2 linked regions of the Homo sapiens genome follow. The protein of the gene in region 2 interacts with the protein of the main gene of each other region in a pairwise test. Each region holds a gene or a part of one and is shown on either strand. Other genes may lie near its edges.

Region 1 (4,259 bases), on a different chromosome or scaffold from region 2:
GTGCATGTCCTGTGAGAGGACCCCAGCTTCCTGTCAGGGGATGTCCCCAGTGAAGTCTGCAGTCCTCTGGTATTCAGGGATGGACACAAGGATTCCTCAGCGGCTGTCCACTCCGTGCTCACCTTTGTCTGGTACCAGGACTCAGCCTCAGCCCTGCTCCTCTGAGCAATCTCCTCATATTGGGCCTTGACCTCAGCGATGATGCTGTCCAGGTCCAGGTTGCGGTTGTTGTCCATGGATAGCACCACGGATGTGTCTGAGATGTGGGTCTGCATCTGGGACAGCTCCTGCAGAACAGAAGGTCATAAGATCAACTTCACTTCTGACATTTACAGAGATGCCCAGCCCTGTACATCTTCTCCCCTTTGCAGACCCCATCAGAGTAAACAGAAGGATGGTGGAGTTGCTTACTGCATCATACAAGGCTCTCAGGAAGTTGATCTCATCTGTAAGAGTGTCTGCCTTGGCTTGCAGTTCAACCTTGTTCATGTAGGCAGCATCCACATCCTGGGGAAAGAGCCAACAACCTGGAGTTGCCTGAGCTCACCTTTCCAATCTACCCATCTTCTAGTCCTCCTGCCAATTCTCCTCTCCCAGGGGAGCGAGGACACAGAGCCACTTCTCTCCTTCTAAATGAATTTGAACCCCTGGCTTCATCTGCTCACCTTCTTCAGAGTCACAAATTCATTCTCTGCTGCTGTGCGCTTGTTGATTTCATCCTCATATCTACAGGAAGAAAGGCATGGGACACATTTGAGCCAGTGGGTAGGATGAAACAGAAAAGCAGCTTGGGATTCAACATTTTCCTGAATGGAATATATTCTAATTGAGCTTTCCTGCCACAGAGAGCCAAAGAGATGAATTTTGCTACTACTAAATTTGCCATTTCTTTAATCTCCCCATCCTCCCATAACCATCTGTGGTTCTTGCAGGTTTGCTCCTAGGGACTAATTTGTGCTTTTCATTTCCATGGACATGGGTTGTTAGGAATCCTACACACATCTGGCCCTGGTCACCCAATAGTCTTGAAGTGTGTGCTGCAGGAAATGGAGTCCTCACTTGTTCTTGAGGTCCTCCACCAGGTCCTGCATGTTTCTCAGCTCCGAGTCCAGACGACCCCGTTCCCCCACGATGTTGTCCAGCTGCCTCCTGAGGTTGTTGATGTACTGCTCGAACAACGGCTCCAGGTTCTGCCTCACAGTCTTGGTGCCCTGCTCCTGCAGCAGGGTCCACTTGGTGTCCAGAACCTTGTTCTGCTGCTCTAGGAACCGCACCTGGAGGGGAAGCAAAATGGTCATTTTCCAGGAAAAGGAAGGCAGAGAAAGTGTCTGGTATCCAGTTTCCTGGAGGTCTGGGAGGTCCCCATGGTGCTGGGCTACTACAGTGCATGTAGAGAGGCTCAGGCTGAGCTCTGCTCCCCCAACTCCTTCTCCTTTGCACCCCACCAGTCTCACTAGAGAAATTGTCCCACGGACCACTGAGGTGTTCTCGCACTGTAAGCTATTGATCATCAGTGAGTTTCAACATTTCTTCTTTTCTTTTTCCAAGCACAATCACAAATCTAGTTTAAAAATACTAATTACCTGATATATTGTACACAGTTTTTTTTACCGAGAGGATCTTAGTTAGGAGGGATATTAGATGTTGACTCATGATTACATTTCAGTCTACTTTCCCATTTAGTGTCTCCTCTCAAATATTCTGATGTTATGGTCATTCTCTGTTTTTAAAATTAATTAGCATTTATCCATGTTTTACAGTTGTTTCTATGTCCCTTTTTTTCTTAATCCAGCCAGATTATCTTTTCCTTTTCTTTCTAAATCTTTTTCCTCTTACCCAGACCCCAGAGTGTAATTTACCAGCCCATATACTCCTGGCATTTGCTTTGTAATCTCTTAAACACTTCAGAGGGGAGAATTAACCTACTCCACTCTCTGATGGCCTCATCTGTGCTTCAGGGTTATGAAAAGTTATGGCTCTCCCTAGGCAGGAGTGAGGGCCACTCCAGATATCCCATGGGGGAGTGATGCCCATCTGTGCTGCCTCCTGTGCACCGAGAGCCACCTGCACTCTCTGCAGAGCTGGGCTGAGTCCCCTTCTCCCTCCCTCCTAGGGTCTCTCCGGCAGGAAGGTGTTGCTCTTCTGGTCTGGGGACCCTGAAGTGCCCGATGGAGGGCATGGCACTGGCTCACCTTGTCGATGAAGGAGGCAAACTTGTTGTTGAGGGTCTTGATCTGCTCACGCTCCTCGGCCCGCACCCGCTGGATGGCGGGGTCAATTTGCAGGTTGAGGGGAGTCAGGAGACTCTGGTTGACAGTGACCTCTTGGATGCCTCCAGGGGGGCACACAGGGAAGCCAGGGCCCCCAAAGCCACCAGCAAGGCCGGCTCCACCACCCAGACCAAAGCCAATGCCGGCTCCACCACCGAAACCAAATCCACTCCCGGCGCCACCAAAGCCATAGCTGCCTCCGGCTCTGCTGCCATAGCCGCCACTGATGGCACAGCTGCCCCCTCCAATGGAGATCCTCTTGGAGCCCCCCAGGCCATACAGACTGCGGCTGCCAAAGCCAGCTCCTCCACATGCGCCACCCAGGCCACCACTGCCCCTGGAGCGGGACACGGAGATGCTGCTGAAGCCAGAGCGGCTGACCCCAGGGAGCCTGGCTGAGTTGGCACTGAAACCCCGGCGGCTGCTGCTGTGGCTCCTGATGGTGGTGGATGTGCTGGCCATGGTTCCAGGAGATGAGAGGGCTTAGGAGAGTGTGAGAGGCTGGAGGCGAGAGGGAGGAGAAGCAGGACGAGGAATCGGACTCCAGTAGCAGCTTATATATGGAGAGCATGGGCTGGGCCCAGTCCTGGAAGGTGAGCTTGCAGGTTGGGAAGGGCTGGGCTTTACAAATAGTGAGATCACACCTGCATTATTACAAAAGTTATGAAATACCGAGATTGCATTTTTCGCTTCCTTTAGTCAGGCAAAATGTTCCTGCCTCCAGCTTTGACTTGAGATCTCAGCACAATAAGAGTATTCTCAATTCATGAAGTTGGAATTAGTCACTGTCTTCAGCAAAGGTTCTGCATGCTAGGCTGTTTATCGACATGCCCTGAGTGCCCTCCTCTTCCCAGTCTGACTTTCTTCCAGCCTTGCTGTTGGAGATCACAGGCACTGTATTGTGAATTCCTTAACAGAAATATTACAATTTCCCCATAATTGTTTCACCTTTTAGGTGCAATTTTAAACAGGTAGAGAAGCAGAACACTGCAATGGGCCTGTATATACCTGTCACCTGCTTCCATGATGATCATCTCATGGCCAGCCTGATTTCTTTCATACTTCAACCCTATTTCCTCTTCCATTCTAGATTGTTTGAAAGGAAATTCCAGAAGTCATATTATGTCTTCAATCAATAATTCAATATTAATATCTAAATAATAGGTCCTTTAAAAAATCAAAACACTATTTTTATATCTTAAAAATTTACATACTAATTAAAATGAACAAGTGTCTATTTAGTCTTCAAGCAGTCCTATTTTTGATATATATTTCTTATATTTTGGTGTCCCAATCAGAGTCAAAATAAGCTCTATAAACGTTGTATTTGAGTGATATATCCTTTAAATCATTGAAATTTAAAAATCTCCCTTCATTTCTTACTTTTATTTGTTAAATAAAACAGGTTAACTGTTCATTGTACTTTTTCATTCTTGGGATTTTTCTAATTGCATACCCCTATTGTTTCCTTTAATATGAGACTCTAACCTTCATATTTCATATTAAAATTAGAAGCTTATTAAGATTCTGTCTATATTTAAACATTCTAGAAGTAAATGTAGTAGATTGCCCATTTAAATTTTGAATAGTACTATTTGCACAATTATTTACATGTTTACAAATTGAATACATGATACATGTTTTAAAAAATTTTTTGTAAAACATGCTAAACAACAAAATAATATAGCTCAAGGCCATTCCCCAGTTACCCAATTCCTATCTATGGAGGAAGTAATGTTAGCAGTTCCTTGTGTATCCTTGTATCTTTACTTGGATATTTTCCTGTGCTTTTCCTGGGCCATGGGTGACATGTCTGTGCATATGTGTTTGTGTCAACGTGTGTTTGTATGGGTGAGGAAGAGGTGGAGGGAGTTGGCATATATAGAGAGGGAGCCTGCATTGTAGAAAGGTATATAAATAAATACATGAATGTTTTGTGTGTATGTGTTTGAGTGTGTTTTATGTATATAAAATATTTCATGTATTCAT
Region 2 (3,500 bases):
ATTCTTTCTTTTCCTATAGGAAGAGGAAGACAGAGCTCTTACGAGGGGGAGGCAGAGACGGCACAGCAAGGGACATGCCCCCAGAATGCCACCAATGTCCCAGGACAGGCCCACCCATGGGACCAGGTTATCAGGGACCCTGTGGGGATGGGGTGGAATCTGGGGGGGTGAGCCTTCTTCCCCAGGCTGGGAGTGGGTGAGACGAGACTGAGGCCTCTACATTTGAATGCCCCCCAAACCCAGCAGTCATGTTGTGAGCAAACAAAGAAATCACGTTACTTCTTCCAACTGATCCGTAATTTCTTGGTTCTGTTGTTTCTGTGGGGAAGAGTCAAAGGAAGGTGACTGAGGGTGGCCCCCTCAACTCTATTCCCCAGACCAGGAACGGGTAGGCAGGGGCCAGGAATGGATTTTAAAGGCAAAGTTCTCAGACCCAATGGGAACACGAACTGGTAAACTCTCCTCAGGCTCTCAAGGAAAGGGGATTTGTGTCTTTGTTGGTTTTTGCCCACAGCCACAGAACTGAAAGTCTGAATCTCGATTCTCTTGAAAGGACAGTAACATAAACCTCTAGAGATGGAGTGTGAGAAAAGCCCACCCTCTGCCAGTTTGTGATTTAGAAAGGTGTAATCATTCAACAAACATTTGCTGAGCACACACAGGCCAGGTACGGTTCTTAATAGCAGGGATACCAGACAGAAAAAGACAGACAGGAGCCCTTGGCCCTGAGGTTTACATTCTAATGGGCCTTTAAATCTTGGACTCTCAGAGCTAAGAGACCTTTGATACTCTCTAACTCTACCTCCTCAGGAAATGCAAGCCCAAGGAGGAGAGGTGGCTTGTCCCAAATCAAAGAGCAAATTAAGGACTGAGTCAGGGCAGAAATACAGGGCTCCTGACAACCAGTCAGGCTAGCGCTTCCCCAAGAGGCAACAACCCCAGGGCGTGTGTGGCAAGGACTCGAGCAGGGGTGTCTAGAGAAGAGAGAGTAGGCAAAGAGGGCAGCAACAGAAGAGCCATGCTGCATGCTCCGTGCTCTGGGGTCCCTCCAGCTGAGGCCTGGGCCCCCCAGCTCCCCATTCGCCCTTGGCACCAGGGGCCCCCTGCCCCTTTCTTCAGGGTCCCAAGGGGAAACTGGAGCCCAGGATTAGCAGCATGGAATCAGGGGACCCCACTGGACTCTTACCAATTTCTCTATCGTGATATTGAGTTGTTTGTTTGTTACATAGCTGGAGTCCAGGGCTACCGCTAGCTGTTGGTACCGGCTCTGAGGCGCATGCAGAGAGGAGGAGTTGGAGGAGGATTGGGGGGAGAGGTAGAGAGAGCAATCATTAGGGTTGGGGGGTGTGTGGGCTGTCTCAGCTGGCAGAGGGGCACCCAGCCCCCGCTGTGGGAGGAGGTTGGAGGGCTGGCCTGCAGGGTCACTGGGCCACGGCCCAGGGCCTCTTACCTCCAGATCCTTCAGGTTAGCAGACGATGCAGGGCCCTCCCCATTGACACATGTCGCAGACTATAAGAGACGAGAGTGCACATGGAGATGTTCTGTCCCCTCAGTGTCTAAGCCCTCTAACTTCGTTTCTTCCCCAGCAATTGGCAACATTTTCTTTTCTAACTTGGACCCTCTGTCCCGTAACCCCTTTGTGCCAACTTCTCTCATGGTTCTTATTTCCCCACCATCCTTTCCTCCCGAGCAGCTCTCATCCAGTGCTTCTGCAGCAGGATACAATGATGCAACCAGTCATGGGGTCCAACTCCTTCATGTGCACAACTTCAAGGGAGAAGGCTCAGGGAAAAGGCGACTTCCTTAACATTGCCCAGCACATTGGCTGGTCCCAGGATCTTCCCTCTCTCTTGTGAATCCCTGCTTCAGTTTCTATCATAGTTCCCTTCCCCCCACCCCGCTCTCGGCCTCAGTTCCTGAGGTACCTCACAAACAAGACCATTGAGCTGTTGGGAGAGTTGTCGCAGGCTCTCGGTTGATGAGAAAGTCCTAGGGATGGAGACACAGGGGTCAGGGGTGCAGGTGGCTCAATGGGAAAGAAGGTCATGGGCAGTGGCCTCCCTGACTCTCTCAGCCTAGAGACTGCTGCCCCAACAGGAGACACTCACTTGGTTTCATCCATGAGATTAGGGACATTGTCAGCATCATGATTCTGTTTGGGAAGAAACGTGTGAGATGGTCATTCAATTTCTGGTAAGAATCACCCAGGATGGGGTGAGTCAAGCTCCCAAACTCATTCTAACAATCTTCAATCTCCCCAGGCCTCAAGGAAAAAAGCCCAGTCTGAGCCTTCCCCCGGCCCGGTCCCCAGGAAGGGCCCTTGACCCTAGGGAACAAGCTGCCTGTGAAAGGAGAAGATAATGCATAATAGGTACAGGAGGGCAGTGGGCAGAGGGGGAGGAGGCACGAACCTGAGATGCCGCCATGCTAGTGAGACTGGCACCAGGGGAAGGGACACCGCCAGGTAACACGGTGTCATCAGATGGTTGTAGAGTAGCAGCATTGTCCTTGGGTGTCTGTCACAGAACAGAGCAGGGGGTTAGGGGGCCATGCGGGAGAGGTGCCTCAGTACTATGAACACAAGGGTGTGGAACAGGTAGGACAGGTGTTGCTGCAGTCAGAGTGACAGTCACACATGCTAGGAGCCACTCAGGGGTGTGGATTGGTTGCCCAGGCCTTGGGCTGCTAGGCAGCATTTCAGATGGCCAAAGCTCAAAGCAGGGGCTGCACGGCCTCCTTCATGAACACGAGGACCTCGCTCTCCCTGGAGCTCAGCAAAAGACAGCAGCAGGCTCTGACCTGTGGCAGCCACAGCAGGCAGGAGGAAGGTGTGCCAAAGTCAGGGAGGAGAAAGGCACTGTTCTTCCAGAAGGCCAGTCTGTGCTGCAGAGTGACCCTCACTGGGCCCCTACTGGGCAGAGGATGGTGATGAGGAAGTAGTTGTCTGGGCAATGCACAATGTAGCTATCTGCCTGTCTCCTCCTTTCCTCCCTTCCCTTCTCCCCTGCAGTGGCACAATCATAGTTCACTGCAGCTTCCACCTCCTGGGCTCAAGCAATGCTCCCACCTCAGCCTCCCTAGTAGCTGAGATTATAGGTGCACACTACCATGCTCAGCTAATTTCTATAGAAACATGGTCTTGCCATCTTGCCCAGGCTGGTCTCAAAGTCCTGGGCTCAAGTGATCCACCTTGGTCTCCCAAAATGTTGAGATTACAGGTGTGAGCCATTGCACTTGGCCTACTGGCTGTGTTTCTGATTCAGGCCTTTTCAGGGGGAAAAAAAAAAAGCTGCCCAACTAGAAGACTCTCTCCAACTCTCTGGAGGTAAAAAGAGGATAAACCATGGCCAACACCCCCACCCCGACCTCTTACCTCCAAAAACATCTACCCAGCCAAGAAACCACCCAAGAAAACAGAGGTAAGACATCTTCCCTGTGGCTCTTGGCAACTTGGAAGTTGTAGGGCCTCTTTCCTGGGAATAGTACCTGAGGACAATCC

What was found. Proteins that work in one complex are often made in the same cells at the same time.
Region 1: the proteins of GOLGA2 (region 2) and KRT6B interact in binary tests that used the Homo sapiens proteins (3 or more experiments, as listed by UniProt).

What each region holds. Positions count from the first base shown.
Region 1 is NC_000012.12:52,449,347-52,453,605, forward strand, and holds the start of KRT6B (keratin, type II cytoskeletal 6B), read right to left. Parts: upstream 2,801-4,259; 5' UTR 2,733-2,800; coding exon 2,193-2,732; intron 1,275-2,192; coding exon 1,060-1,274; intron 727-1,059; coding exon 666-726; intron 508-665; coding exon 412-507; intron 288-411; coding exon 123-287; intron 1-122.
Region 2 is NC_000009.12:128,266,008-128,269,507, forward strand, and holds part of GOLGA2 (golgin subfamily A member 2), read right to left. Parts: intron 2,518-3,500; coding exon 2,413-2,517; intron 2,154-2,412; coding exon 2,110-2,153; intron 1,991-2,109; coding exon 1,927-1,990; intron 1,511-1,926; coding exon 1,451-1,510; intron 1,268-1,450; coding exon 1,187-1,267; intron 319-1,186; coding exon 280-318; intron 14-279; coding exon 1-13. UniProt on the Homo sapiens protein: Peripheral membrane component of the cis-Golgi stack that acts as a membrane skeleton that maintains the structure of the Golgi apparatus, and as a vesicle thether that facilitates vesicle fusion to the Golgi membrane.